Regions from separate parts of the Homo sapiens genome. Here region 2 is linked to region 1. The links come from fine-mapping of genetic effects on gene expression. A gene starts in region 1. The other region holds a variant in brackets. All regions are shown on one strand. Distances are between the middles of the regions. Region 1 holds the start of MEF2C (myocyte enhancer factor 2C). Region 2 overlaps MEF2C-AS1 (MEF2C antisense RNA 1).

Region 1 (16,907 bases):
TTACACTGTACCTTTCAAATGAAAAGCATAAAACAAATCTGAAAACTAAAAGCTCACATTTTCTCCCCCTGTACTCTCTATTTTGACCTAATAATCATTTAAAGTGTGGGTGTTTATCAATAAAAATTTTTGCAGCACCACACATTGTGGTGGAACGTTGCTATTTCCCGAGATAAGTACAAAAAACCTCAATGCTAATTTGCATCACAAAATGATCTAACATATCTGGAATATAATGCACAAGCTTCATTGAAAAGAAACCATTATATTTTTCTTTTCGAAACAAAAAGTACAGATATCTGATTGGGTCTGGGTGTGCTGGAGGTAGGGGGTGGGGAAGAGGTCTCATTTTCTATCTCACACCTATTGTTTTATGTATTCTAAACTGCTATATGGGAATAAAAAGGAAACATACTGAATCCACTTTGCAGTTAATGTCTTAGTAATTTAAGAGGCAGAATTTTCAAGTTAAAGAAGGGAAACATTATACTTTTCCTTTCCCAAAGGTATTTCCCCTATTTCCCAGGAAGAAGGCCCTCTGTTCCTTACCCTATGTAGGGGGAAATAAAGGACATTAGTTAGGGCTGAAATCACTCCGAGACAGAAGAGGGGAAGTTTATGATGTGGCACTGTGCACAGTATCTGGTCTGCAGCCAGGAAGTTTTCATTTTGTAGCTCTGCTGCCAGTACCTGCCCTGCATATTCAGGAATAAAAATATACCAGAACTCTACCTGAAAAACTGTGGATGTTACAAAGAATTAAAAGAGTTTATTTTTCTTTCTTTATCCTGAGTGTAATTACTGTTTTTTAAAAAGAAAGAGCTGAAACTGTAGTAACTGGAGTTTTTTTTTTTTTTTTTTTTCCTTTTTAAACTCCTCAAACTACCTTCCCACAAAGCCATTTAAGTTAAATGGTACATTTACAGACTCACCTACATGAAGGATATAACTTAAAACATCTGCTTAGACACATACGTTCTGTTCAGATATAAAAAATGTGGCAAAAATTTTTAAAAATATAGGACCACTATATTCTTAAAATGTGTGTTCTTCTGTGTGTGTGTGTTCATTCATTCAAGAGATCTTTGACTGCAATTAGGTAGTCGGTCCTATAAAGGCTTCCTTGTGTGACGATAATTTCTAAAAGTAAAATGCTCCAGTGAATATTTCTGCTAAATAATCATATCTTAAAATTACTTTAAAGAAATTCCAATCCCTCATGTTACATTAAGCAATAATGCCAGTTTTCCATAATATGCCTTAGTTGTACCACCTTATTCAGGGTCGACAATTAATTAGAAGACAAAAAGTATAAATCGCGTGTTTATTAAGTAGCAGACAAATTTCTTTGTCTGTCTCAACATATTTACATTAATGTGTTTATTTTCTAATTTTGAAAATAAATAAGCATATTTAAGCCAAAGCTGCCTGTCTTCGGGGTTTGGGGAAGGATGCACATTCTCTTGCTATCCTTCTAACTTGCTGAAAGAATCACAGGTGTGAAAAAAAGACAGGCATAGTTCTTGGCTGATTTTTAAAAAAACACTTCACATTCTATCGAAGGACCATATCCACTTCTTTTTTAATCCAATATGCTAGGAATCCATAGTATCTGAGAGCAATTTATATGAATTCTTCATGTGCATCTTATCTATGACAACAAGATAGAAGAGGAAAACCAGACCACCACGCTCATGATGCTATTTGGAAAAAGCAGGTTCTCAAAAGGGACTGATTCAAAGATCAGTTAGTTCCTCCAGCCTCTAAAAACAAGTTTTGGGTACTTAATTTAAATCACTGCTTGAGGACTTGCACTGTCATTCTACATGAATCCCAACCACTTGCAGGAGGAACAACATTGCTCCATTCATTTCAAATTTACAGCATTAAGAATTAATAAAGTCTTTATAATGTCTGCATTATTTAAGAGTAATGATTCCTGAAGAAATCTGCCTGTAATATGTTTACTGTTTTTATTGCTTGTAATGTCGTCAATTTCCTTTTCAATGCCCTCAAAAGATTCTCTTCATGTACTTTGAACTTTGTTTACATTGGCTGTATTTTAAAAATATATACCAAGATTTAACTTGTACAATAAAATGACAATGTACAGCAAATGAATTATGGCGATGACAAATAAATGTTACTCATATCACCTAAAACTAAACCATAAATTTGTATAACATGTATCACCTAATTTCCATATTTAATAGGAATATGATTTTTTGCAGTAAACATTAAAATAGTATCAAGGAGATGTGAGATAATAGTATATTAAATAACCTTTTCTATAATCTTATTTTTACAATGGTATTCTTTGTCATAGAACATTCTTTAATTATTTTTCTTTCACAGACAAAAATAACAAAAGAACATCAATGCCATCTTCGTATTCTTAAAAGAGAGGGGTAAGGAATGAATGCTTCCAGCACCCTTTATTTTGTTATGCCTCAATATTGTCTGTAAAATAACATGGTTACTAAAAAATTCTTGATTTGAGCAAGACCAAAATTATTACAGTGTACTTTACAGTTATTTCACGCATGAATGTTAAAACATACTGAAATTATAAAACTTTCATAGACTTTTTTTCAGTATTCAGTTTAAGATAGGTTGTCAATAAGAGCTACTTTAAAAAAAACTGACAATTTTCTTTGCTCACTAACTATAGGAGATCATTGCAAATTATTTTCTTTCTCATGCTGCTATTCACTTACGTACTGCATATTTGCTTCAATTCTCCAAGGGAAGAAATGTGGCTCTTGTGGGAAAGGTCCACCCCTTTCTACATGTTTGCTTCCTTGAACGAAAGGAACACACCCCCTTACATTCTTTGAAATGTGTCCAACAATTGTAATAGCACTGTATTATTGACTAAATTAGAAAATCTTAAGTGATAGTCAAATATTGTTAATACACTGTGTATTTTGAGTCAGGAGAACTAAATGACACATATACAGAATGAAGTTCAATCTAGTGTCTACACTTGGATGCTATAGAATGTTTGTGTTAGTAGAAGAAACTCATGAATGTTTTTGTGTACAGGTATGTTGTATGACACCTCAGGAAGAGGCCCATGAATGTTACAAGTTTTTGATGGCCTCCTTTCAATTTAAGACCCATTACAGGAATGACCCCTTTCTTTCATAAGTATATTGGATAAAAAACATTTAGAAACTTAGGAAGTAGAATCAGAGAGCTGTTTGAAATCACAAACATGCAAAAATATCACAGGTCTACGCTTACCATCCTAATGGCAGAAAACTCACACCAAAGTTGGCACCCACTAACTTCTACCTCATTAAGGCAAGCTGCTGGTCATTGGATATTGTGTTCTAACACGACTTCCCTTTATGTAGAATAATATGTTTCCTTCCAAGGAAAGTTTTTCTTTTGTTGTTATTTTCTAATAAATATACTCCATATTTATAGAAAATTTTGCATTTATCTTTGATTTTATCTTTTCTAAATAGTCTTTCTTTATTCCACTTTTACAAAGAAATTTTCAAGTGTAAAGACACAGCAGGAAAAAAAATTATATCTCTTTTAAGATATTTTAGTGTGTAAATGAAATGGATAGTCCTTGTGCAATTTATCAGGCATTTCAGAATGAACCCAACTGTATAATTCCCAGGCCTACAAAATGAAAGCTTTGTTATTTACCTATGTTTCTCACTTGAAATAAGAGTGAATATAAAGAGTGAATATATAACTGCAACTGAAGGTAATAAACTTGTTAAAACTTAGTAAGATATTGTGATGGTCAAAGAAAACCTGCAAGTGCGTGCCACAAATCCACTCAGATGAAACATCTCATTCACTAAAATTTTCTATCTTATTATAATAGTGCACAGAAAATTAAACACATAAATATTAATTTTATGTATCACAGATGATGTAGGCAATGAAAATGCAATGTTTACATTTATGGGTGACTCATTAGTGTTTTATTGTGTGAAACACTAGGAGGCATCAGTTGGGTAAAAAAGGACTTCAATTTTAGAAGAAGCAAAAAATTACTGTAAAGTTGGGTGTGTAAGAAGTTAAGATTTTCAAAATGTTATTATGTAAACCAAAACTTTATTCTCTGAAATAAACTCTCAAAACATCATATTCTGTTGTAAAGAATGATCTTTATATAACATTCATGAAATATATATATTATATATATATATAAAATTTGACCAATGAACTTTTATGAAGATATGTTTCACATATATGGATTCATAACTATGTAATTACACATTTTTATGTAGAATATATTTGGTAACAGAATAACATAATGGATATTGACTATTATGCATTTTCTGCTGAATTACTCAATAACATGAGTGTATGTTTTATTTCTGGCAAATTCTGTTTTGTGCTCTTTATAACGCCTCTGAAAATGTCTAATGCATTTAAGCCTTACAATACCTGCTTCATGTAAGCAGACAATTTAATGTTTGTTCATAAAGAAATGATGGAACTTAAAATTTACACAATGAAGACATACATAAAAAAGGACATGTTTTCTCTTACTTCACTACTGAAAGCCTGTCATTTGAAAACTGAATTTTCCATTGTTTGAATGGATCATAATGATGAAGCAACAGGGTCAAAGTATGCTTATCTAAGCAATCATTTGAAATTGAGTGTCTTGCCATTCCTCAACAATCAGCTTTTATCTTTGACCTATCAAAATAACATGTGAACTATGTAATCTGCCTTTTGTAACGTGCATAGACTCTGTTGTTCCTGGTTTTGTGAATCACCTCTGTAATCTGGTTTGATTTCCTAAAGGTGACAGATCTCGGTGAACAGTCAAGCTTTACTGAGTGCAAGACAGTCCACGCGCCTATAAGATTAAGGTACAGTGCTAAGGACGGGGATCTTAATTACCTGTCTTTCCACATGCAGCATACTGATGGAACAACAGTGATTAAATCATTTCATCGTGTCTAGGCAATCACCACATTAGTATAGAATGAATACGTGTATTTTGATAAGTTTTAGATATTAATTTGTGTGGTATTTTCTCAGAGGATGTGCTTTTGAAAAAAAAGTGTAACTTTATTAATAATCTCTTAACAGTTCATCTTGTGACCATTAATTGCATATTAAATTCTTCTATGTTGCTTCGAATCATGTCCCCAAAGCCAGAATTCTGTTTAATAACTATGTCTTTGTTGTTATGTAGCACAAGTATTGCTGCACAGCTATTTCCCCATTTTTGTCACTTTCTGAGATTTCATAGACTCAAATTATACCACACTTTAGAGTTGAGAAATAAAACCACAAAATATACTACAATAAACAGAAGAAAGTTTTAAAAGATAATGTTAAGATATGCTAAGGAGTTATTCAGTGCTGTTCTTTATAAAAGAAGTTTAAATAAAGTATTTATTAGAAAGATACGTTTGCAGTGTTATGGAATTTATTGATTCCGTTAAGTTAGGGCCAAGGAAAAAATTTCAGGTATCTTTTCCCCCAAATTTTTCAAAATGAACATGTTTACAAAGAAGAAAAGAGGCAAAGTGCCTCTTGTTATCTAAGTTTCATGGAGTTATCTAGTATTAATGTGCTTCTCTCTTGAAAAGTTAATATCTGTGATTGCACACTTTTAAAATATGAATAGCTCAGAAAAGGTGGAAAACTGTTTTTATTATAAATTGCTCATTTGTTATTGAAATAAAAAACAAATTAACATTTAATAAAACTTACACTTTAATATTATCTTTCAATATATTCCACATGCACAGCAATCAGGACGTAAATGGTGCAATTAATGAATGAAGTAAAATGCTGCCTTTCCTAAGAAGTCTGAAAAAAAGTCAAACATTCGAATGCTGTGTGAATTATATTAATAAAAATAGTAGGTTTTTATAAAATTTAGTAAAATTTGAAGTAAAGGTAACAGCCACCTACTGTCTCTTTGACGGGAGAACCAAATTTTAAGCAAATGTTATGTTTAAAGACTGTTTTGATGAAAACTTTTAGAATTGAGTTAGTAGCAGAATACATAGCTAAATGTACTTTTCTACAAATAGAATGAGATATTTGATTTAAAATATTTCTTTCCTCTTGAAATAGGATGTTAGATAGGGACATCTCATTTTACCTATCAAGTTCTGAGTCTTGCTTTAGAACTACTTCTTTTAACTTAATTTCATGCATACACTGGAAGACAATAATATGGCTTTTTAACTGCATTATCTTTAGTTGAAACTGATGGAGAAACAAAAATACTGCTTATACCATATTGGTACATGCTGAATGTTTTTAAAGACTAGCCAAAACTGACATTTTTTAAAATTAAATAAGATGTTTTAGTTTCAAATTAGAGATTGTTGATCTATTTAAAGCTAAAATTGGTATGCAATACGAGGTTAAACGGGGTTCACAGGTGGTCACATTTCCATGTCCTACCAAGTCTCTAGGGATTGGAGTTATTATACTCCACATAAACATCTTTACTCTGCAACCACAATTCCATTGCAAGGTGCCAGTGAAAGTAGGCTAGTCGCTTTTTTTTTTTTTGGACTGGTATAATGAGGTGGCTGGAGTTTCCTTTATAGCACTTAGAAATTATATGCAGTCCCCAAGCATTTCATAAGACAGTTACTATTAGAGTTAGTTTCAGATTCACAATAGTAAAACGCACTTTGTGTCAAAGCAATTCTCCACTGAGGACCGGTTAAGGAACTGGCAGAGAGCCCAATTCTACTTAGTCTACTGTCAGCATTTACATATAAAGTATTTTATACAAAAGACACGCATTCCTAAAATGTGACAAAAAAAGGCTCTCCCCAAAGAATGATAACTACTGGACTTAGAATAGTCAGAAGTGATTCAGATATAAAATTTCCTTTAAAAAGCAATAGCCATGTTCAGGGAAGGAAGGTAACATTAGCATTAAATTTAAATACTTCCACAATATTTAATAATAAAATAAACAATGTGCCACATCTATATATACTTCCTTTGTGACAAACTTTATCATCGAGTTTGGTAACTTTCATTCCAAGTCCAAAGAGAAGGCAATTTAAGTGACTTAACCTTGCTTGCTTTTAAACAGCTATGTATTTGACTTGACCTGAACAGCAATCCATATGCTGAAATCGAACGTGAATTGTGAAATGTGTAGACTACTATGGCAGGGATATTACTTTTTGTCCACACCAATTAAGAAGCCCTCTGTCAAGCCGGCACTTTGGTGAGGGAAGGAAATGCACAAAGGTATACTCTGACAGACAGCCATGCTTTAGGTCAAACTAATCCCAAGAATTAGTGGCTCAGAAGCATAACCCAGGGCAAATCAGTGTCTTTGGGGGGACTCATGGGAGCATCTTTCCACAGTGAACTAACTGCTAAATCTTAAGGCGTCTACTTCAAGGTCACAGAACATGCTGTGAAATATTAAAATCCACCAGGCTCCACACGCTCCACCATATCAAACATGCTAATGACGTGAACTAACTTCATGAAACTTTAAATACACTGGTGTGACAGGAACGAGTCAGGAGTGATTTCAATAGCTGATGGCAAACGGATACGACTATCTAAAAAGTTACTTTTAGCAACAAACAAGGAAATCATGGAATCTAACGAAAAAGAATGCACAACGAGCCTCAACTTCAGCCTTCAAAAAAGGCACAGGGATAGATAGACACAGTGCCGTGGAATATATTGATGCAGATTTTAGAGACAATACCCGGGTTTTCTATTTCCTCGAGAAATATCAGGGGTACTTACATGAAGGAAGACCCGATCAGATTAGTCCTTGGGATATTTTCCTTTCTTAAGAGAGAGAGAGAGAGAAAAAAAAAATAACAACAATAATCTTTACTTCGTCCAGCGTTGAAGTGCTTCTCCACCTGATTCAAACATGCAGCCACGGCGACCCACACAGAACCTTCAAAGTCAATCCAATAGCAGCCCGAAGATGTCTGGGTGTACGCGTGTGCTCAAGTGTCTGTGACTGCGAGCAGAGCGAGCAGAGAGCTGGAGACGATGTGTGCGTGTGTGCGCGCGCGCGAGGGGAGCGCGCGCGAGGGGGGGGGCGCGGGGCCGCGCATTCGCGCGCGCCGAGGCCGCTCGGAAGAGGAGGAGGAGGAGGAAGAAGGAGGAGGAAGAGAAGGAGGAGGAGGAGGAGGAGGAGAAAGTGGCTCTCAGCGGCCGGTCGGATTAAAAGTAACCAGACTCGTCCAGAAAACTGCGTCCAGGAAGGAAGTGACAGAAGACGAATGGGAAAAGGAGAACAGCTCACAGCGTTTGAAACATCGCGTAAAAAAGACTGGGGGTGGTGGGGGCGGGGGGGATTGAAGGATACTGGGAGGGGAGGCGGGGGTGGTAGGGAAGACGGAGCACGAATGGTTGGGGTTCTAAGCAGCACGTCCGATGAAATGTCTTTTGCCTCCTTTTTTCCCCCTTTATTTAATTTTGTCCTTGCCTTTGCTTCGCGCTGCCTTTTTCTCTCCGTCTCTCTCTCCCCCACAATCCCAAACCGTTGACTCTTTCCTCGCGAGCTGGAGAAATCATCAGTTTCACTCTTGCAAAAGGGGGGCGGGACTAGACCTCGGAGCATTTTAATAAAACAAACATACAGCAGCTCCCTCCTCACCCCTCCAGTCTCAACTAGATTGATAAATTACTCCACTACACTACTTTAATTATGTATATGGTATGCAGAATAAATCACTGAACATCAGTACCTCAATCAAGCACTTTTAAATGATAATTGCATCTTGGTGAATCAATCTTTCCATTCCTGACATTTTGCTAATTTTAGTTTTACGGTGGGGTAATAGCACATGCCATACGCAAACCTAATGACAATTCTTTATTGCACGAAATGAAGACAACACGGCGAGCTGCGGCTCCCTGCTCCTCTCGCGGCGCCTCTGCGGAGGACGCTCGGAGAGAACCTAGTCTCCCGCTGCGGCGCGCTCGCTTGCTCTCCGGGGACGCTGCGAGCCAGCCAGCAGGAAAGTCCTTCTAAAGTCGGGATCTTTCCTCTGACCAATAGGAGCGCGACCCTAATAGTTGCTCTTGTGACTTTTCCCCCTTTTGGACACGCGTTAGCCACTTCTCTCTTCCACCGGTCGGTGCGCTCCTCCGTTACTCACGCGTAAAAACCACGGTCCAGGATGTCTGCAGCACTCGATTCCAGCGTGCTTTTCCTGCACGCCCAGAAGTCGCGGTTTTCACCCTGAGAGGTTGGAGCGCTAGAAAGCGAGCCGAAAGGTTTCTCTAATGTTAGTAATGTACGAAATAATAAAATAATTACCAGTATTTGAGATCTCGACTTCATCGCGGGGCCATGAACTTTCTAATCAGTTTGGAAATATTTACCGAGGAAGCAGCTTCCTCGGAGTTCCCCCCCTCCCCCCACTCTATCTTTTCCACACCTTACTGGACTTCATCCAGGTCATTAACATGTAAACCAAACCAACTTCCCAAATGCATTAGGCTACCCTAGCCGATAGCTGATGACTTCACTTATCCTGAAGAGTTTCAGCTGCACAGGAAGCAGAAATAGAGACTGATAAGGGAGGATACTTATGTTAAGGTTAAAGCATGATAAACACTTTTCCTTACAAAAAAAAAAAAAAAAGGCTTTAATATTTAGGCTACTAGAGATTGGGCACCTCCCGCCCTAACCAACTGTTAATATATACCATGCCCAATAAAGCCAAAGATAAAATACATCAACTAGTATAGAATCATGAAAAGACAAGATTGCATGCCAGTAGAATTATAGATTACATAAAATGTTTAAACCAAACTATTTTTTAAAAAATATTGTGAAAGCAAGAAGGGAAAATTAATAGAACATGGAATATATGAGATTAGACAATAGTATATTGAAATATCTAGCTAACTAAAGATTTCCTCACTTTAGAAAATTCCTTTTAGCACTACGTTTAACCCAATGACTAGTTGTATTTCCTGTTAAGTTCAGCAATATGCCTCCAGATGACTATTTTAATATATGAGGACAGTATGGTTCAAAAAGCCTCCTGCTTCAATGTAGGAGGTATTTGATGTGAGTAGCTTCTCTCAGAAGAGTGGCCTCAACATTTAGGCAACTGTCCCAAGGCTTCACTTGAAAGGGGAAGGTTTATTTTATAGGCAAGTACAACTAGATCTGAACAATCTTCAAGTTCCAGCTCATCATTGTGACTATCAGCAAAACTAAGACCATTCCCTCCCTTTTATTATAGGAATGCATCACAAACTGTCACAAAGCAAAAACCATCTGAAATAGTAGTATTTCTTGCAGATTAGTATTTACAATGTATTTTGTTTGCCGGTTTTTCAAATGTTGAGTTTGCCATTACCATGAATTCATTTTAATAATATGGCAGAGAACATCTGTATCAGGTTTCCATTCAAAGTACAACTTCTCTGAAAATCCAAAAATTTAAAGGGCAAAGATATTTCGAATACTAAGATATGTCTATATATGGTGGTAAAAATAAAATTAATTTTCTTCAAGATTCACGAAGGTCCTGAAAAAGCAAAGCATTTGAAGGACCATCTAAGTTTATTGCCATAATACCTAAAATTAATGCAGTGAGTTACAACAGTCTATTTGACATGAGCAAACACATAGCCAATACATGAATTTCAGCCCTGCTGTTTTTAATGAATTATAGAGGGTATTTCTGTTTACCACAGTACACTTCAGTTTTAGATGTTCTTTCAAAAAGAAATTATTTTATTTTACCTTTTCATATTTTAAATAATTATTTAATAATACCCATTATAACAAACCCATAATTATTAATGATACTGCAAGCATTCAAAAATAAGTATAACCCCACACTGGATAATTTGAAAATAATTTGGATCTGGAATGTATCACAGTTGGCCTTTTAAAATACAGGATTTTCCCCTCAGCAGATTTAGCTTCTTAATTATGTGTGACCTAAGTTAATATTACCATTAGTTTTCTTCCCATGAGCCTTTACAGTTGAAGCAGAAGAGATATGAAGAAATATACATTAGAAAATCACCTGAGATTTAAAATTATTCATGAGTAATCCACAAAGTAGTTAATCCAGAGTGTGCTTTGTATTCTTTAAATACTTCTGGACTTTTGGTTTCTGTTTCTGTTTTTGTTTTTTCTTTAAAATCATCCTGATCCTTGCCATCTAATGATACTTGGTTAGGATCAGACTATTTTCTCATGTAGGGAGGAGCTTGTACTAGGTGTCAGGAGACCTGGATTCTCTATCTAGTTCAAAATTTGTGCCTTACTAAGGGATTTGTCCTTTCTAGGCTTCAGTTCGCTTATGTGTTAAATGAGTTCTGTAACCTATTCCAGTTCTATCATTGGAAAACAGAAAATGTTTCTACCCTTTAAACCAATTGGAAGGTAGGGTCTATCCAGTTAAATAATAGGTGACAATTCCTTTAAAAGAAAATTATGTCTGGGATTGATGTACTACTGTACCAGCTTTTATTTTTTTCTAATCACCAAATATTTCTCCTACATTAAGTTGTAAATGCTTTATTGTTAATGTAAATATAGAGTCACTTGTTTTTCCCTCAAAAGAATTATGTTTAGCAATATATTTAATTAAAGTGTCATAGAAGTTACAGAGAGCATGCTCCTCGGGATTTTAACTCCAGGGAAAGCTAATATTGCAATTTCTGTTCAGAGCTGCATACCATCTTACTCCAACCTCCTCTCTTCACTACTTCCCTACATTAAAGCAGCGGTCCACTAAAGCCCTGTGCACTGGGTCTGCCTGCTTTTAAGCCTGGCCCACGCTGGGTGTAGCTCTTGAAGTGAGCTTTAAAAATTATTTTAAAGTGAACTGGGGCGGTTGCCACAGCAACCCACCCTGAGATGAAGAAAGGCTATAGATTAATGTACCCCTTAAGATTATTCAACTGTATAGTATTTGTTCCTCAGCCAGAATACTTTTAACACAAACATGATAAGTGAACATGGTGGTTTAGAAAAATCTAAAAAGCAGTGAAACACAAATTCCAATAGCATTACATATTTTAATCTTTGTCTAATTATAGTATTGATGATACACAGGACTTCCCATGAAATAGATTAATTTTATAAGATACAGTACTTGCAAAAGTAGGCCCTGAAAGATGACATGATCTTTAAGCAAAATGATATGTCATTGCTTATAATATAAAGTGTATGGTGGTCATTTAACTCTTTATTATTGTTATACACGTCTATTCTGTAAATACCTAAGGCCAAGGAGTTTGGCAGTTTTACCTTTATGGTAACTCTGTGGTAAATGATAAAAACAAATGTGAGCACTCACCACATACACTTCTTTACTGCCACAATCATTTGCCTTCCGTTCTTTACTTCATCTCTTCATAGAAGTTACTTCACAGTTTGCAACTCTTCTTTGGCACCTTCAAATGTGGAAGTGCAAAACAGTATATAGTATTTTGTTAATGCTGATATGAAAATACTTTCAAATAGATTTATTTCTAAAACTTCTAATCTGAAGTAACAATATTCTGATTTTAAACCAAAGTGTTTTGAATATAAGACAACTGAAATTGTCATGCATTGTGATAATAATCTTTAACATAAATAGTGCCAAATATCTAAATTTCAAAAATTCACTAGGTGCAGCATTAACCCAAGAAGAATATACAGCATGTGGAATGTCTGTGATTGAGAATTTGCAATATACAAAGGATTTGTTATTTCAAGACAAGGTTTACACATATCTAAGGATTCTATGTTTATCTGTATTTCTGTACCTTCAGTTTTATATCTGATAGAGAATTACAGAAGAATGTCAAATCCATTATATCCGAAGCTAACACAATTTGTCAAATCGGGAAATGTTTGCAATGCAGTTGAGGTTACTGAAAGGGCTTATTTTATGCATTGCCTAAAGGCCAATTTAAAATACTTTGGGATTAGTGATGTGTATTCAGTACGGTTTATAAATTCTATTACCAATAATACCTTATTTTTCCAAGCAGTGTTTAACTATACTGAGCACAGACAAATGCTCCTGTGTTCTGATTTCTGTTTTAGTCTGGCTTTCCATGACTTTGTGCACACAAATGAACCTTTCCTTGGCTTCAGACTGAGGCTAGTCCCAGAAAGAGAACCAGCCTTGAGACACATCAGACCAGGATGGTCAATATCTCTTTTCCCATTTGTAATAGCAGGAGGACTTTGCATAGTGAAGAATCATTTATAAAGCCTCTATATTTGGGTTGACATCTCTGAGGTTTATTTTTAAGTTGCTTCAGAGTCAAAGAGAAATGAAAAATTTTGGCCAGTTTTACTTTATGGGTGTTAGTTGAGTTTAGGTTTTTAGGCTTAGGCCCACAGTGAGTGAGTCCAAACTTGGTCTTGTAGTCACTACCAAGTGATTTGGTGAGTTCTCTTTCTTCCAGTTGTGCTTCATTTTACAGTCTATTAAGTGAGAATCATAATACACATCTCCCAGGGCCTATTCACCTTATAGAAATGCAATCTTCATGAAATAACATCTGAAAGGTATGGTAAGGTTTTTTTTTTTTTTTTAAACGACACTACAAATTATGATACATTTCTTTCTTTTCCTGTAATCAGTATGTCCAAATAAGGCTTGATCAGTAATTTGCTTGCAAGTGTGTGGCTGATTCAAAAATAACCACATGCATGAATAAATTTAATGCGACTTTACCTTTACTTACAAAATTGTTAAATGTTGTTCATCAGAACATTGATTCTATCCCATTTCTTGAAATATCACAGAAACCTTCAATTCAAGGAATGGATTTTCACACTTCCCCTTTTAACTGTTTCTTCTAGATACCTTACTATGTGTGTGCTTTTTCATTTTAAAAAATCTTTACCCGGGGTTGTGGTGGAAGTGGGGATTAAAAATCTCGTCCTGCGTTTTGGTGCCCACTTCTTTGTTTGGAAAGCAGAGCGCTGGGACTCAATCCGGACGGCCCTCAAAGACCCAGACGAGGGACGCCTCTAGTTTGAGCAACTCACTCCGCTGAGTTATTGATTGCAGGCAGCAACAATCCCTCCGGTTGATTTGTGTGAAAAGTGAATCCGCTCTGGCTGGGCGTTCAGCAGAGGCGCAACAGCTGCAACGCCATCCAATTATTGCCGATCCTCCCCTCCAACACTGCTCTCATCACCTATATACTCTTCTCTCTGCCCGTCTCTGCTTCCCCCCCCTTCCCCCCCCCCTTTTCTCCCGGCCGACGGAGCTGAAGGGGCGGGGGTTCCTTCCTTGGAGTGTTTCTAGAGCTCGGAGGCTGCTGGTAGGGGGTGAGTGCGCCACGTGCGTGCGCCACGGGCGAGCAGGAGGCAGGCTCTGGGCCCTCCTGGGGACCTGCTGGACCTGCTGGACCTGGGTGCGACGAGTGGGCGGCCACGCTGGTTTGGCGCGGGGAAGGAAGGGGGTGTGCCGACTTGTATTTAGTTGGGGGTTGTGGAAGTCACGGCTGGGGGAAAAGCGTCCGGTGGTTTGTTGGTAAAGAGGGTGCGTGATGGGCTCTGGGGAATGGAGGAGGGCGCAACGGCTGTGGGTGGACTGTGGAAACGGGCGGTGGCAGTGCCGGGGTAGTTGTCCTGCTGGTCTGGTTTTGGGATCCTGGGCTGGAGAAATGCGATCCAAAAGAGCTCGGGATGGGCTCAGAGCGACCCACGAAAATACCAGGGGCCAAGTAAAATGAACCCACCCTTTAACAGTGCACAAAGCGCTGGCACACGGTCCACGTCTGGTGACGCAGGCTGCCCGAAGCGCTCCAACCATTTTGCAAACCTGGGAGAGCAAGAGGGGCTCTGCAGGTCTAGCCGCCGCCCCTGTCCCACTCTGGCCAGCCGGAGTTTTTCACCTGACAGACCAATAGGAAAGAACACGGGCCCCAAACTGGATTTTATAGTCTGAGCTCTCAGCATCTAAGGAATTATATTTCAAAAAACAAAAGCCAACTCATAGCTCTATTAAGCTAACGCGTGTGCGAGTTTTGGCTAGGAAAAAGCCACAAAGTAAAGCAAGAAGTAGGGTATTCAGGATAAAACACACACTTTAAAGACAAAACAGAAAACTTCCTTTCCCCTTGTACCCCCTTTATTTGTTAACACAGGGGAACGGTTCTGGGATGTCTTACAAAAATGCTGTCACTAAATGCAGATATCTGTGCTGTTCTTTGACCTGTCTGGCATTGTGGAATACTCAATTACATCGAAGGTGTAAAAACGTTTATGTTATCATGTTCTTGAAACATTTAGCGGCTACCAAGATGGTAGCTATTTAAATTAATTAAAATAAGATAAAATAAAAATAAATTCTGTCCCTCAGTTCCACTGGCCATATTTCAAGTGCTCAATAGCCACATGTGGCTAGTGGCTCCCTTACTGGACAGCGACATGTCAAACGTTTCCATCACTGCATAAAGTTCTGCTGGAGAATACTGCTATAGAGTTCAAAATGAATGCTGGTTAAAAAAAGAAAGAAAGAAAGAAATTACTTTATGACTGATACCAGCCACATTTTAGGACACTCTTGGAGTTTCTGTTACTTGGCACTAGTGTGAGAAGCTTTAAAGTCAGACTTTCAGTATCTTCCTGCTGAAAGAGACCTTGGGGAACACTTCACCCAGACACCTAATTTTTTTATAGGCAAGAGAAATCAGGCCCAGAGAAGTTAAGTGATGCCCCCAAAGTTATGTCATAAATTTGGAAAGAAGATAAGGTCCCCTAACAGGGTCCAGTATACTTTGTGCCAGACAAGGACATCTTTCTAGGCAAATTCATCTTACAGAAAGTCAACTTGACTGAAAATTTTAGGCAAGAGTACCCTTTTACAAGAAAAAATACTGCTAAGTATTCCTCCAGGAAGAAATTCCATTTAACAAAGAATGAGGAGCATGGGGAATAATACTATCTCCCAAACTAAAAATGTATTATTGGTAGTGTCATAGATTCATATAATGCCTTTTCTAAGAGGCTAATTGGGATAACACTGTGCTTCATTCTACTTTAAAAATTCTGAGGAAATGGGATTATCCTCTTAAAGAGCTAAAAAGCATTCTTAAGGTCAGGGAGGAAAGGTGTCACCTAAAGTGAAAATTTTTAGCAAAGCATAATCTTTCTCAAATTTGATAAAGATATCGGAGACATTGATTATGATATAACTAGGATGGAATTGGCTCAGAAATGTTAATAACCAACCAACCTTTTTTTTTTTTTTTTTTTTTTGAGACGCAGTCTCGCTCTGTCGCCCAGGCTTGAGTGCAGTGGTGCGATCTTGGCTCGGCTCACTGAAAGCTCCACCTCCTGGGTTCATGCCATTCTCCTGCCTCAGCCTCCCGAGTAGCTGGGACTACAGGCGTCCACCACCACGCCCAGCTAATATTTTCTTTTTTTGTATTTTTAGTAGAGACGGGGTTTCACCATGTTAGCCAGGATGGTCTCGATCTCCTGACCTCGTGATCTGCCTGTCTCGGCCACCCAAAGTACTGGGATTACAGGCGTGAACCACTGCACCCGGCCCAAACAAAACATTATTACAAATTACACTATCTGAAACATATAAGGCAACAGAATACATCATAAAGATTTAGACAAAGCATAAGCTTTCTTATTAGTTTTATTGTTTTGTTTTGTTCTGTCTTTTGGGTTTGTTTTGTTTTTAATGCCATGTTTGTATTCTATATATCTTATTGTTAATTAGGAGTGAACTGTTGGTATTAATTCTGCTCTTTTATAGTAGTTACCTTTTAACTTAACACTTAGTTAAGGATCCCCGAAGTGTCCAAATAAGAGTACTTATGAATATTAAATAATTTTAAATTAATAACAATAAATTATTTTAAAAGTGTAGATTTACATTTTTATTTGAATTATTGTCTTTATTGCTCTTCTTAATTTACCATTTGCGTGTGGTTCAGCATTCTTCCCATTCTCCCTA
Region 2 (16,907 bases), 530 kb after region 1:
AATAATCAGTTATTCGATCAACATTCCAAGGACAATGAGGAATCTATGATGTATTGTTTATTAGATATTCAATGTTTTTACCCTCTATGGATTGAGGCACTTTCTGTAAATATGGAAAGGGGATTCATTATACTGTGGAGTATTTTCTGAAAATTCTGTTACTTTTTTTTTTTCATTTGCGTTCTATCACAAAATTCATCTAAGCATAGAAATGGTTGTTTCTCATTGGGGAATTTATCTGCCAAAATGTTATTGCTATAGGAAATGTATGTCACATTGGATTATCACTTGGCACTGTTCAAGCCAGAACAGTGTGAGCTTTAAACTTGGTTTAAAAAAATCTAATTAGTATCAACTGAAAAAGAAGATCCCTCAAAAAAAATTATTTCTTACTTTTCCTATTATGAAAGGTGATTTGTGATAAAAATTTTTAATCTGTAATCATTTTTGCTATGCAAAATCAAATTTGACATTTTTAGAATATATTATTCTGAGTAATAGGCAAATTTCCTTAAAACGTGCTTAAAAATGGGGAAAATTAAATGAATAGAAAATATTATTCCTAGTGAAAAGCACCTGTGTGGGCAATAATGAATGAAAATATAAGAATGTAAGGAGTTTATTACTCTATTCAGACAGTTCTCTAGGTAAATTGAGAGATGTTTTTGATATTCAATCAATAATAATTTATTGAGTGACTATTATCTGGCAGTTACTGCATTAAATAATAAAAATGAGAAGACTCTATGAAGACTGGATAAAGACTGAATAAGACTCTATCATTTCATTTAACTGCTTTATGATCCAATCTGCAGGCACACATAAAAAGACTGGCTGTAATCTTCAACAAAAATCAGTAGGAATACACACACAAACACATCCATGTATACGTATTTGCACATATATACATATTCATACATACATATGTATGTATATGTATTTGCACACACAAATTCATGCATATATATTTGCATACAATCATCTGGAAAAGGATGAGATTAAAACACACACACACACACACACACACACACACACACACACACACACGAAGAGCAAGCTGCTTTTTGGAATCTGACAGACCTGGATGTCACTTGAACCGTGTTGACCCTTGATTCCTTATCAAATGGGTTGACAATATTTCCTTAGAGGGTTTCTGAGAATATTGAAGGAGACAATAGATGCAAAACATTTAGCTCAGTGCCAGCCATGTAAAAACAGTAAGAAATATATAATTATTATTATATTTCATTTTATTTTGAAAGACTTCTTGGAGGAGGGAGCATATAAACAGACATTGAGATATGAGGATATAAAGAAGTATTATTAGGAAAAGGAAGTAACAGAATAGTATACCATAAGTAGAGAAGGAGAAAGTGATTCCAGAACAGGTAGGCACTTCTATCGCCATTAAATAGTATATGGCCATTTACTATTCCATTTCATAAAAAAGAAAATTCTAAGAGCAAAAAGAGTGTTTTAAAAAAACATATATATATATATGTTAAAGTTTTTACATTGAAATAAAGATCTCAGCTTGGATCTACTTAAAACACATTAGAGAAATAAAAAATATAATTAGTGAAAAAATATTCAGGAAAATTTACTGGAGATGATGAAACAATAGGAATTTAAGGCATTAGCCATAATTTTAAATATTAAAAATATATTTTGTGATTAAAATATTGAAAATATTTTGATTTGAATACATCACAAAAGCAATTAAGCTAATTACACACATTTTCTCTTTTTCTCTCTGTTTTATTAATATGTCACATTTCTGCTCATTTATCTTTTTTTTGTATTTTTTTTTCGTAACACAAATCTTATCCTAATGAGAATTTAAAATCAGGAGTCTATGTGACATAGAATTTCACCTATACATTATCTTAAAAACATGGGTTTGGGCAGGATCATTCTGAAAAATTTCTACGAAAGTATTTCACACAGTGAGGTTTGAAGGTTTATAAATTCTGTGGTCATGTCATCAGGGTGATATTTTGAGAACAGCAAACACAGTGTGTGTATGTGTGTCTGTGTGTGTGTGTGTGTGTGTGTGTGTGTATCTACTTCGTCATTGATAAAATTAGGTAGCGGCTATTTTACAGATATATCATAATTGAAAAATAGGACTAGATAAATAAATAATAGGTGATAGAGTAGAGATAGAGATAGGATTGAAAATCCATCTTGCACAAGCTGCTTGTAGAAAAGCCCTGGCTACTTGGGGTCTCTGAGTGCTTGGATAACTGAATATCACTACTGTCTCTTATAGATCTTTTACCTTCTTAAGGGAAAGTAAGCTAATGGCTTTCTACTGTTGTATTATAGGTAATTTTATGAGAGTAGGCTTGCACTGGCTTTCATCCTTGAATGAAGTCCCCCTTCATAGCTCTTCACGTTGAATTCTTGCCCTAACATTACCATCTCAGATGCCAGCCCTGCCATGAAGTCTTTGCTGATGCTTCAGACATTTAAGACACCTGTATATTTCCACAGCATTTTGTTTGTATTTTTGAGTGATTTGTCATGTCCTTTTTACAAAAAAAATTTGGATGTGTTTCTTTTCTATTCCTTCCCTCCCTAGAAACATTTTGTGGGAAAAATTGCACATTAACAGACTCTTGATAAAACATTTGTTGAGTTGCATTGCATTGACTTGAATTTGTAGACAATTTTTAAGTGGAATGGCTAACAGAACCTTTCTAAAAGTCCATCCATCTGTTCTATTGATAGTTGTTATGTATTATTAGAAAGATTTCTAATTCTAGGTATATGTATGCAAGTATAAATGAACTAATTTTTCATGTATTAGAATTACTAATTTTTCATTAGTTTTTTTAATGACATTTATCAAACACATTATGGTAAAATTTTCATAATAGCAAGTGGTTAGCAGTATTCAGTTGCACTCTTTGCAACTACCATATTTTAAATAGTTTAATGACAGGAAGGGACAAATCTTTCAAGTATTTTTATCAGCTTATTTATCAGTATTCTTGTTTGCTTTGAGGTGAAAACACTAAATAATATAAAAATCAATGTATAGGCAGTATAAATGTTACCATCATCATTGTGACTGACCAAAGTGTATAATACTTTAAACATAATAGCAATATGCTGAAAATTAAAGCAATTTTATTGATTTTTATTTCTAGCTTTTAACGCATCACTGGTCCTCTTCCTTTCACGAGTCAATTTCCTTTACTGCTCTTGCTCATTCACAATAAATATTTACTATCCAAGTTCTGTTACCACCACTAATAATTACAATATGTGTGAATATCCTGATGCTTAGCCATAATGATACCACTACAGTCAATGCTCATCGAACTACCATTTGTGGGAAACTGCCTTATACTTTGCTTTCCAAAAGCCATTTTTGGTACTGTCCTCTGATTGAGAGTCCATGCTTCACTCAAACAGAAGTCTATCTTGAAATTCTGGTCCATTACATAATTTTCAGAAGCTGGGAGAAAGGCATTTGCATCATTTCTGTTCCCAGATCTGTTCAATATATACTTCCAGTCTGTCATGCCTGAAATTAATTTTTTTTACAATCTGGATCTTTACTATATGCTAAAAATTCAGTACAAAAAAGGACCTCCTTCTGCAGAGAATATGTAAGCCAGAACATCGTGTTCCATCTTTATAATGAAACACATAGTTCCAATCAAAAGGCAAATTTGTTTCAAAATGTTTAAAGAGAATAATGCTTTAAAGGATTTCAAATGGTTACTTTGTAAAAGTGAGAAGATTTCTATTTTGCTATATATTTTGACCTGGATCATGTAATTTGTATGTAAACTACACAACTTTTTATTTATTTTAAGCTATTTACCCCTTTGTGTTTCATGCTTCTGAGATTGGAAAACAAATGTGAATAATATTAGAAATAGTTTCTCTCAAAACACATTCAATTGTATGACCATTAAAAATGTAAATTGTGAGTATTTATCAACAAGTTCTAAGCAAATGATAATATACAGTTTAGACTCTTGAGTCAAGAAGCTTATCATTACCACAATTTAAAATTTTGTTTCTCCAAAACTAGAAAATTACTCTTCTTTATTTTGTAAACTTTTCAAAGTAGAATGACCCTAAAAACTAAATTTCAAATATTAGAAAAAGAAAATATGATAGCATTAAAAACAAAACAAAGAAAAACCCTTTGTTGGATCTTGGGAATATTACTCACCTCTGAAATTATATTCATTCCTCTGTAAAATGGGAATAGGCACATGTGAAGACTAAATGAAGTAATGCATATAATGGCAATAATACAGAACCTGAATTAGATTTCTCTTCTCCTCTTATGTCTCCTCTTCCTCCCCTGCGGCTTCACCTACCCTCCACCTCCCCTTCTTTATCTCTTTTTCTCATTTTCTTAGGTTGGGGCAAAAATATTTCCTTTCTCCTATTTCTTCTTCCTCTTTAATTCCAAAATGAGGCTTTTGTTAACATAGCATTTTACTTAGATCCAAGGTTCAAACTGAGACCTCTATCACATCAAAATCATACTTTTCTGTAACTTTTTAATTTCCCCTGGAAGTTCTATTGATTTTTGCATAATGAACCTGTCACAGACACATAATGAGATTAAACAAATTTTCAACTTCTGACAAATACTATGTTTCTAAAAACGTTTGCCTTATGCTTTTGGATACTATATTGTTTGGTACATGAATATTTGTTAATGTTTGGCTTTTATTAACATTTTTAAAAACTAGTAAATAATGGACTAGCTTATGTAGTGATTAATTTCTGATTTGTTTGATATTAATAATACTCATGATGACTTCACACAAAGTTTATTAATAAGTCTTTGTCATTCTCTTTTTAACTTTCTGCATTTCATTTGCTCTAGGTTCATGTCTTACATCTAGCTAGTATTTTTTTCACTTCAATCTGCGATTTTAACTCATTGTTTACATAGTATTTCCATCTATTTTTCTATAAGACGTTCTCGTTCTCATCTAATGAACACTTTTATTAGTTAGACTTAACTTATAGTTGCATTTTTACCCTAGTTTTGATGTTTACATTGTGTTGAATGATTTAAGAGGCATTGCACAAATATTCTTATTCCACGCTTATATATATTGGTCTAAACTGTCATAGAGTGTAAAAAGTATTCGGCTTTTGCCCAAACGTTCTCCATTCTCTTCTAATTTTTTACTAACTTTGTCTGCATCTTTAACAATAACTTTTTGTTTTCTTTTTGTATTTTGATTACGGTTGTTGTTCCCATTTATTGTTGGAGGTAAGTCTGCTTGAATTGCTTAATCAATCAAAATCCACTTATCTGATATCGATAGGCATCACAAACTAATCACAAAGGGGCAGTACTTAAATCATTTGGCTGCCTATGACTGAAAATAAAATTCATAGTGATTTAGCTAAACAGAAAGTTTATTTTTGTCACTTCACAAAATTCTGCAGGTGAGAAGTCCAGGGCTTTTACAGTAGCTTTTGAAATAATATTTAAGACTTACTCTCTTTAACCTCTTCACTCAGCTGATTTTAACATGAACACTTGCCATTGTGCTTGCCATTCCATGCTTGTAAGATGGTTAGCCACCACCAGCTTTGTATCTGAGTTCTGGGGAAGAAGAATACGAAAGCCAAAGACAAAGGCCATGAACCTCTAATGTCTTCCCTTTAAAAAGCTTTATCCAAAGCCCCATCTGGAAAATCCAAGTTACATTTCATTGTGCCAGAACCTTGTCAAATGACTATTTTTATCCACAAGAAAGGATAAGGAATATTATATTTCAACTGGAAACATTGTTGCCCCATACAAAATTAGGTTTCTATTATAACCATAAAGTTGTAGAGAATAGACATTGCATAGGCAAGTAGCAAAGTCTTCCAAGAGAGCTAATCCTTATGTTAGTGTTATATGATTCTAACCCCCAATCTACCCAACCTTTGGCTACTAATGATTGGTTGTGTGGTAGACCCTTAACTTTGGGTCAAACAGATTTCTGTGAGTCAATCAGGAACTATGACTCAAAGATGAAATCCGAATTGTGTGTTGAAATTCAGAACCAACATTGGGCACTCAGTGTCTACCATGTGCATACTGAAATAGGGATAGCCTGGGGAGAGAAAAGAAAAAAGAAAATAAAATTGCACTACAGAAGTATTAGTATTAAAATACCATGTAGCCTAAGAAAGATAAAGAAAAAATTCCCTTCTTGTTTCTTCAACACATTACCCTTTTTGGCCCAGCTAGTGTGATAGCGATTCTGTTTCTCAATTTAGGCATATAGGATAACATAGCATCTTTCTCTCTTGGTGGTTTTTGTTTAGTTTTGTTTTGTTACTTCTGTTTAGACACAATTCAAACTCTGTGGAAGCAGGCGCACATATTTCTGTTCAACATTGTATTTACTCTGCCTAGCAGAGCATCTAATAGATAAGTATTTGTTTAATAAATGAGGCTTTATGTAAACTAAGGATCTCTAATTCTTTTTTTTCTCTTATCTTTTATTTTGTCATTGGTTTCACTGGAAATTCCAGTTTTCTTTCTACAGAAGCATTCCCTTTTAAGAGTTACTTTTGTTTAATGATTTCTGGACAGTGCCATTAATGATCCTGTAGGAACAGTTTATTTTGGTGTGCAAGTTTTCAGAAAGTAAACTCAAATGATAAAATCTTTCTTTTGTGTTCATATAGGAGGAGATAAATAATAGGTAGTATCTCTCTTCACCAATTGAGAAATAATATGTGGAAAAAGACAGAGAAGGCAACCAAAATACCAATTCTTCCTTTATAGAGGAATTGGCTTATATCTGTGTTATAGTGTACTTCCTAAATGTTGAATTTCAGAATTAGGCATACTCACCCACCCAGCGACTCTGAAACAAGAATGAAAGAGTGAATTATATTATATCGTCCTTATGAGTTAAAGTTCAAAGAAATTGAAGTAAGCACACTCAGTCAGAAGGACTCTCCCATTAAAAGGTTAATTTTGGCCCTATGCATTCAGCATGTGGCAGGGACTAAAATCCATTTATGCAAAATGTCTCATCTTGCAAAAAATTCAATTTGAGCCATCATTAGATTCTTCCATACATTTCTAAATTTGCCTTTATGGCATCTCCATTGTGAAGTCTTTTATAAAGTTCTTCCTTTTCTGCATAGTCTATTCCAAACACCTGAATTCCCATTTTCTCCTTGGTTTTGTGTTTTTGCATTGTAGAATTGAATTGAATGACTTTTGAGTCACAAAGCCCACACTCTCTTTATGAGCAAGCATTTCCATGTTTCTGGCACTATGACTGTTTTCACTGCCTCTTGTTACAGAATTGTTTGGGTCTAAGAAATTTACCTATGAAGGAAGTTTTCCTCTTCATACATAATTAACCAATCTGGAACCAATGTGTAATTGTATAGTAGAAGACAATTATTAAGTCTTATTCAAAAACTATATTAATTTGAGATTACTCCCCTCATCTTCTCATTCCTGGTACTGAATGCAATATGGATTTTGAGTTAGCTGATCTAGCACTGTCTGTACAGGGATAAAGCTTATAATTTAAATTAGAATCTCACTAGGGTACATGAAACTCATTTGTTTTTTTTCAGTTTAAAAGAAGTTGTATTGTTCTTAGCCATTGCCATAAAGACTCTTCCAGCTCACCCTCCATGATCCTCTTTCTGTCCCCAGTAAATATTTGCTTCAGCTGCTTCTGCTTGGATGTGAGCTGGGGAATGGAGTGTTAGGCAAATAGAACTCAGCCCTGTAGAAGAGAAAAGAAGCTCTTCCCTACCCTCCCTCCATGTATATGAGTGACAATTTGATTTTGCATGACATTAATGTATTACTGTTTTGCTGTAAGCATTCTGAGACCAGCTCCTCATCATATTCTGGCATTGATTTTATCATAACTTTAGGTTTGGTTCAGATGTAAATTTAGTTGCTATGTCTCTCAAGTCTTTTAAAATCTACTCTCTACTCTTCTTTTTTCCCCTCCAATTGACCTGTTGAAGAAACTGAATTACTTCTCTTGCAGAATTTCTCACAATCAGGTTTTTCTTACTGCATTCTTATGGCATATGTTCCTCTGTACCCAGCACACTAAAAATTAGATAGCACAAGCCTGATATGGTTTGGCTGTGTCCCCACCCAAATCTCATCTTGAACTGTAGCTCCCATAATACCCATGTGTCATGGGAGGGACCCAGTGGGAAGGACCCAGTGGGAGGCAATTGAATCATGGGGGCAGGTTTTCCCCAAGTGTTCTCATGACAGTGAATAAGTGTCACAAGATCTCATGGTTTTATAAATGGCGAAGTTCTCCTGCACTTCTTTCTGCCATCAAGTGAAGAAGGATGTGTTTGCTCCCCCTTCCACCATGATTGTAAGTTTCCAAAGACCTCCCCAGCCATGCTGAACTGTGAATCAAACCTCTTTCCTTTATAAATTACTCAGCCTCCTTTATCAGCAATGTGAGAAGACTAATACAGTACATTGGTATGGTGTAGTGGAGTGCTGCTGTAAAGATAGCCAATAATGTGGAAGTTACTTAGGAAGTGGGTAACAGGCAGAGGTTGGAACAGTTTGGAGGACTCAGAAGAAGATAGGAAAATGTGGGAAGGTTTGGAACTTCCTAGAGACTTGTTGAATGGCTTTGACCAAAATACTGATAGTGATATGGATAGTAAAGTCCAGGCTGAGGTGGTCTCAGATAGAGATGAGGAACTTGTTGAGAACTGGAGTAAAAATCACTCTTGCTGTGCAAAGAGACTGGCAGCATTTTGCCCCTGCCCTAGAGATCTGTGGAACTTTGAACTTGAGAGAGATGATTTAGGGTATCTGGGGGAAGAAATTTCTAAGTGGCAAAGCATTCAAGAGGAAACACAGCATAAAAGTTTGAAAAATTTGCAACTTGACAATGCAGTGGAAAACAAAAAATGATTTTCTGGGGGGATATTTTGGCCAGCAGCAGAAATTTGCATAAGCAATGAGGAGTCAAATGCGAATTGCCAAGACACCGGGGAAAATGTCTCCAGGGCATGTCAGAGACCTTCACAGCAGCCCGTCCCATCACAGGCCCAGATCCCTAGGGTGAAAAAATGGTCTCCTGGGCTAGGTCCAGGGCTCCCCTGCTGTGTGCAGCCTTGGGACTTGGTGACCTGCATTCCATCCACCCCAGCCATGGCTAAAAGGGGCCAATGTACAGCTTAGGCCTTTGCTTCAGAGGGTGAAAGCCCCAAGCCTTGGCAGCTTCCATGTGGTATTGGTCCTGCAGGTGCATAGAAGACAAGAATTAAGGTTTGGGAACCTTTGCCTAGATTTCAGAGGATGTATGGAAACACCTGGTTGTCCAGGCAGAGGTGTGCTGGAGGGTCAGAGCCCTAAAGGAGAACCTCTGATAGGGTGGTACAGCAGGGAAATGTGAGGTTGGAGCCCCCCACACAGAGTCCCCACTGGGGCCCTGCCTAGAAGAGGTGTGAGAAGAGGACCATTGTCCTCCAGACCCCGGAATGGTAGATCCACTGACAGCTTGTACCGTGTACCTGGAAAAGCTGCAGACACTCAACACCAGCCTGTGAATGCAGTCTGGACAGGGGGCTGTACCCTGTAAAGCCACAGGATGGAGCTGTCCAAGGCCCTGGGAACTCATTTCTTGTGTCTGCTTGACTTGGATGTGAGACATGGAGTCAAAGGATTTCATTTTGGAACTTTAAAGTTTAATGACTGCCCTATTGGATTTTGGACTTGCATGGGGCCTGTAGTCCCTTGGTTTTGACCAATTTTTCCCATTTGGAACTGGTGTATTTACCCAATGTCCAGCCCCCATTGTATCTAGGAAGTAACCAACTTTTTTTAAATTTTTTATCTTACAGGTTCATATGTGGAAGGGACTTGCCTTGTACCAGATAAGACTTTGGACTGTGGGCTTTTGAGTAAATGCTGAAATGAGTTAAGACTTTGAGAGATTGCTGAGAAGGCATGATTGGTTTTGAAATGTGAAGACATGAGATATGGGAGGAGCCAAGGGATGAATAATATGGTTTGGCTGTGTTCCCACCCAAATCTCATCTTGAAATGTAGCTCCCATAAGCCCCATGTGTTGTAGAAGGGACCCAGTGGGAGGTAAGTGATTCATGGGGGTGGCTTTTTCCCATGGTCTTCTTGTGATAGC[G/A]AATACATTTCATAAGATCTGATGGTTTTCTAAAGGACAGTTCCCCTTCACTTCTCCTTCCTGTTGTCATGTGAAGGACATGTTTGCTTCCCCTTCCACCGTGATTGTAAGTTTCCTAAGGCCTCCCCAGCCATGCTGAACTGTGAGTCAATTAAACCTCTTTTGTTTATGTTACCCAGTCTAAGGTATGCCTTTGTTAGCAGCATAAGAACAGACTAATAGGTTCAATCAGAGTGAACTTTGTTTTCAACAAGAATTCTCCATAGCTGGTATTGTGTACTTCCTTCATGAGGCATACAATTTCTGGGTATCTCAATGTGTGATGTTGATTAGCGCTGGTAATCATTGCCCAGTAATGTAGTTTCATTAGGCATTTAAAAAACGGTGATATTCTTCCATGTCTACCATTTTTCCCTCTTTTTTTAAGCTCAGAAAATTAATGATCTTCTCTCCATTTTGCATGTTGCTTAATTTTATTTCCTGTTTCATTGAGTGGTCGTTCGAGTCATTGATTTTCACTACTTAGTTATTTTCATTGATGACTTAGATTTTTCTTTAACAAGGTTTAATTGGTTCAGTTTTTGTTTTGCAGCTACTATGCTTTATTTTCTTCTGTATAAAAGAATACCAGCTGTTTTCAAAATCTACTTTTGTGTGATTGTTCTGTATCAGGAATAGCACAGGCATTTTTTTTTCTCCCAATTATTTTTTCTGGTTCTTTAAAATTTTACTAAGTCAAGTTATTATTATTGTTCTTCCTCTCTTCTTGTGATTCTTTGGCTAATCTCTAGAGATCTAGTCTAATGGTAGACAGATTTGAGATTTTGTGACAAGTGCTAGGTTTATGGCTCTCTTTGGTGTTGGAGAAAATTCCACTGGTGCCATTCACTGCGAAAGAAAAATTTTCAAGATTCAACTACAAACTCAAGGAATGGCTTAGTGATGTGACAAAGGAAACTGTCTGTTGTATTTCTGTGATGCTGAAACTTTCATTCTTATGTGAGAGCATTATACCAATAGCAAGATTTTCAACATGAAGTATCACATGGAGTTAGAATTAGGGAGCACGCTATCTTGGGGAGATACTTCCATTCCTCTTCTCATAATCTGCATAGTAAAGAATGCTCTATTTAATAGCAGGGTAGATCTTCCGTATTTGAAAACAAGGAGTATGTCAGCTGGAGATGAGCATTTCACTCCTGCTTTCCTCTTAAATTCTCCAAATTGAGTTTAGGGTTCAGGCGGATTTTTGCATCTGTTTTCTTTTTCTAGCCCTGAAATTATTAGACATATTAGGGGCTGGAATGTTCAGGCTATCCTCAACATAATATTTCCTATACTGCACACATTAAATTGATTTTACTGAGCCAATTTCTCTGAATTCAAGTTGTATCTGCCGTAGTACCTTTCATTCCTCCCCTTGTTAGAACAACAACTTCTGGCAGCATGCCTCTCCAGAAAGACTGCCTAGGGCCGCTTGACAGAAGACACCATTCCTAGGTTTTAACTCATTAGGTGACAGACTGTAGAAATTATTGTAAGAATTGAGAATTTATTTGGTTCTCTCATTCTTCTAAGCAACAGTTGAGAATTGTTTTTCTTTTTAGGATATCTTTTCATGGATATATTACAGAGAAATAAGAAAAGATAAATTTAGTTATATTTGTATCTTCTAAAAAGACCATTATATTTATTTATAAAAATGTATTCATTTATTAATACACATCCATTATAATTACTTTACTTTAACATAAGTATGCAGAATGCCTAGTAGTACAATATTACTTTTTGTATTCTCCACCTTAGTTTGGTAACATGACCCCTTTTTAGTCAATCATACAAGAAAATGACTTTGTCCTGAACCAAGGCAGGCTGCTGCTTTGAGAGGTCCCAAAGAACAGCAGGGGTTTTATAACATCAAGATAGTTCTTTCTGTGATAAATTTTACCTCTTTTGTTCAGGGCATGCATCAGAATTATCAACAAATAGTTAATTGGAAACAGTGCCTAGAATACAATTTTGAATATCATCCTTATTTTGTACAAAATATGGTTCTGTCATTTCCCACCCAGTTGAACTTGAGATTTTCATTTTGATGTTGAGAAAAAGAAAATTACAAGTAATAAAGTGATCAAAAGGCCATCTTCAGTGTAAGATTAATGCTGAGACTAGTATATTTACCATACAATTGTATAAGTAGAAGGTTTTTTATTTTTCTTTTTCTTTCTTCCTTTTTTGTAAGAAAGGAGTTTTAACTCTACATTTTGTGTTCACTCCTCACTTAAAGTAAAATTGGGTTAGAAAAGAGAAATGTGTGAAAGCCGTATTTGGAGTTGCTTTGTATAATTAATGAGTCATCATCTCCCTCAAGCAGAGAATCAGGAAGCTAACCTTTGCTGACTGTGATTATTAGTCTGAGAACCTCTACATTCTGACTTGCTATTTTCTCATCCTTAAGATTGCAATCTTTACTACTGTTCATATCATAAATGCTGAACCCAAAGGATTAGGCCCTAACCTAAAGGATTTCAACACCAATCTCTTCCAGAACTGAAGGTCTCTAAAGAGAAATTAGAGCATTCTTTTCCAAATGCTACTAACCTCTGCTGGCTGAGTTACTGGACTAACTTATTAATGTTTAACCTCTCAGTCATAAAATGTTGGTAATAACAATTTTATTTAGTCAAAGTGTCACATTGAATTTTATGGGAATGAACTTATTTTTCAGTGCCAATAACAAAGAAGTCAAATTAGGTAAATTTCTTTATGAGTGAAGAAAACATAATATGTGATTCCCTCTTATTTTTTTCCCCCTAGGCTGGAGTGCAGTGGTGGGATCTCACCTCACTGCAACCTCCACCTGCCGGGTTCAAATGATTCTCATGCCTTAACCTCCCGAGTAGCTGGGATTACAGGTATGTGCTAGTATGTCTGGATAGTTTTTGCATTTTTAGTAGAGATGGAGTTTCGCCATGTTGGCCAGGCTGGTCTTGAACTCTTGGCCTCAAGTGATCTATATCTACCTGCCTCAGCCTCCCAAAGTGGTGATTCCTAACTTTTTTTTTTTTTTTTTTTGAGATGGAGTCTCGCTCTTTCGTCCAGGCTGGAGTGCAGTGGCGCAATCTCAGCTCCCTGTAACCTCCACCTCCCGGGTTCAAGCAATTCTCCTGCCTCAGCCTCCCAAGCAGCTGGGACTACAGGTGCACACCACCATGCCCAGCTGATTTTTGTATTTTTAGTAGAGACAGGGTTTCACCATGTTAGCCAGGATGGTCTTGATCTCTTGACCTTGTGATCTACCCACCTCAGCCTCCCAAAGTGCTGGGACTACAGGTATGAGCCACCATGCCCAGCTGATTCCTAATTTTTAAAACAATAGTATCTCCTTGAGTATCACATCATGTGTGTTGTTTACTAGTTCAAGTAACTTTTCAGCTGCCTTCTCTTTTGTGTTTTGTACTTTTTCTCAATCATTAGAGTTCTCTCACTATCTTTACTTCACACACACTATTAAATGATTGATGAATATAATAATCTAATCTACAGAATGTCTCTCCAATTACTTTGTCACTTGTTACATTGTCAAATGTGCAACATATTTAATTAGCAAAAATACTACTTCTTTACTGATATGGATGCCCTTATTTCTTTCTCTCATCTGATTGCTCTGGCTAGGAATTCCAATAGTATGCTGAATAGAAATGGTGAAAGAAGATATCCTTGTCTTGTTCTAGATCTCAGTGGGAAAACGTCAACATTTCCCCATTCAGTATTAATGTTGGCTGTGTGTCTGTCATAGATAGCTTTTATTACCATGAGGTATGTCCCTTCTATGCCGATCTTGCTGCGGTTTTAATCATAAAGCGATGCTGAATTTTGTCAAATGCTTTTTCTGCATCTATTGAGATAAGCATATGACTTGTGTTTTTAATCCTGTTTATGTGATGTTTCACCCTTATTGACTTGTATCTGTTAAACCATCCCTGCATCCCCGGTATGAAACCCCCTTGATCATGGTGTATTATCATTTTGATATGCTGTTGGATTCACTTAGCTAGTATTTTGTTGAGGATTTTTGCATCTATGTTCATCAGGAATTGCCGATGATATGACTGCATACCTAGAAAACCATAAAGACTCATCTAAAAAGCTCCTGGATTTGATAAATTAATTCAGTAAAGTTTCAAGATACAAAATCAATGTACACAAATCAGTAGCACTGCTATACACCAACAATAACCAAGCTAAGAATCAACAACAGCTGCAAAAAACTAAAATGAAATGGTTAACAGTATACCTAACCAAGGAGATGAATGATCGCTACAGGGAAAACTATAAAACACTGCTGAAAGAAATCATAGATGACACAAACAAATGAAAACACCATCCCATGTTCAGGAAGGGGTAGAATCAATATTGTGAAAGTGACCATACTGCCAAAAGCAATCTACAAATTCAATGTAATTCCAATAAAAATACCATCATCATTCTTCACAGAACTAGGAAAAACAATCCTAAAATTCACATGGACCCAAAAAAGAGCCCACATAGCAAAAGCAAGACTCAGCATAAAGAAGAAATCTGGAGGCATCACATTACAAAACTTCAAACTATACTACAAGGTCGTAGTTACCAAAACAGCATGGTACTAATATAAAAATAAACAGTAGGCCAATGGAACTGAATGGAGAACCCAGAAATATAGCCAAATATTTAAACAAACAAAAATATAAAATGGGAAAAAAGTACCCTATGCAACAAATGATACTGGGATAATTGGCAAGCCACAGGTAGAAGAATGAAGCTGGATCCTCACCTTTATATTTCACCTTATATAAAAATCAACTCAAGATGGATCAAAGACTTAAGTCTAAGACCCGAAACCATAAAAATTTTAGGTAATAACACTAAAAAACTCTTCTAGACATTGGCTTAGACGAAGACTTCATGAGCGACAACCCAAAAGCAAATGCAAGAAAAACAAAGATAAATAAATGGGACCTAATTAAACTAAAAAGCTTCTGCACAACCAAAGAAATAATCAGCAGAGTAATCAGACAATCCACAGAGTGGGAGAAAATATTTGCAAACTATGGATCTGACAAAACTGACATCCAGAATCTACAAGGAACTCAAATCAGAAAGAAAACCCCAAAGAAGGCTATCAAAAAATGGGCAAAGGACATGAATAGACAATTCTCAAAAGAAGATATACAAATGACAAAAAAACCATATGAAGAAATGCTCAACATCACTAATTATCAGGGAAATGCATAGCAAAACCACAATGAGATACCATCTTACTCCTGAAAGAATGGCCATAATTAAAAAATGAAAAAATAACAGATGTTGGCATGGATGTGGTGAAAAGAGAACACTTTTACACTGCTGGTGGGAATGGAAACTAGTACAACCACTATGGAAAACAGTATAAAGATTCCTTAAACAACTAAAAGCAGAACTACCATTTGATCCAACAGTCCCACTACTGGGTATCTACTCAGAGGAAAAGAAGTCATTATATGAAAAAGACACTTGCACATGCATGTGTATAGCAGCAGAATTCATAATTATAAAAATATGGAACCAGCTTAAATGCCCATTGACCAACAAGTGGATAAAGAAAATGTGGTATATATGGACCATGGAATACTACTCAGCTAGAAAAAGGAATGAAATAATGGCATTTGTTACAACCTGGATGGAGTTGGAAACGTTATTTTCAGTGAAGTAACTCAGGAACAGAAAACCAAACATTGTATGTTCTCACTTATTAGTGGGAGCTAAGCTATGAGGACACAAAGGCATAAGAATGATATAATGAGCTTTGGGAACTTAGGGGGAAGGATAGAGGTGGGTGAGGGATAAAAGGCTACACATTGGGTACAGTATACACTGCTCTGGTGATGAGTGCACCAAAATCTCAGAAATCACCAATAAATAACTTTCCTGTGCAACCACGCACCATCTTTTTCACCCAAAATCATTTAAAAAAATACTACTAACACTAAATTGAACTTGTTTCATTTGTTGGGATGACATTAAAAACTCCCTAACTCTTGACTCCTGTGGTATTACTCTGTGACTTCAGAGTAACCTCCCACTTGCCTGAACTTTAGCATTTACAAAATTTCTCCTATTTTTTCTGCCACTATCTTCTTCTACACTACTTGTACCATTTTTTATTACAGTTATCCATTTCAACAACAAAAGTGATTATGTCACTCCCTTCCTTAAAAGCTTTGACTTCCTTTTGCATATTAGTTTTCCTTAGTTTGATGTAGAATCAATCCGCTTCAAACTTTGATTTGGTAGATAGGCAAATAGTCTCATCTGCAGTCTGAGTGATCCTCCTGTACTTTCAATAAGAGAGAAACACAGAACCAGGTAAAATTATGGTTTTGCATCTCTGGCAGGAGCAGAGGTTAACACATTTAAATGTCAGCTGCAGTGTTATCGTTCCAGAAAAGTTGATAAAGACAGATTCAAATAGGAAGCCCAAAAACCAGATAGTTTAGGCGGAAAGCCTCAGATGTCACCACATCTGAGAAAAGATCGTTCAAAGCAGTGTCAAGTCTTAAATGGTTCAGTGGCCAAGGTAACCCATGGCAATGAGTCCAACAGGTAAATCTGTGGGAGCAAATCTGGCAGTATTATCATCTTAAGTCTGCTAGTAACATTTTTATACAATTCAAATGTACTCAGAGGAATAGTAAGCTGACAGAGTATACAAAATGTTTAAAAGACCAATAG

What was found. PIP is the estimated chance that this variant, and not a neighbour inherited with it, causes the effect. A credible set is the group of variants that fine-mapping cannot tell apart.
Region 2: its variant is the best candidate, but not a certain one, in a credible set for the expression of MEF2C in whole blood (TOPMed, PIP 0.58).

Annotation. Positions count from the first base shown.
Region 1 is chr5:88,875,221-88,892,127 of GRCh38, forward strand. MEF2C (myocyte enhancer factor 2C) reads right to left here and starts at 7,964. Exons shown (of 11, transcript NM_002397.5): 1 at 7,735-7,964. MEF2C-AS1 (MEF2C antisense RNA 1) reads left to right here and starts at 8,110. Exons shown (of 10, transcript NR_136219.1): 1 at 8,110-8,265. RefSeq lists enhancers at 9,022-9,071, 14,117-14,653, 14,240-14,439, 14,654-15,188.
Region 2 is chr5:89,408,597-89,425,503 of GRCh38, forward strand. The region is part of intron 8 of MEF2C-AS1 (MEF2C antisense RNA 1); the gene reads left to right. It overlaps LOC105379073 (a long non-coding RNA gene), which reads right to left and starts at 1,153. Exons shown (of 4, transcript XR_001742436.3): 1 at 1,081-1,153. The variant G/A (reference allele first, on the strand shown) is at 10,155.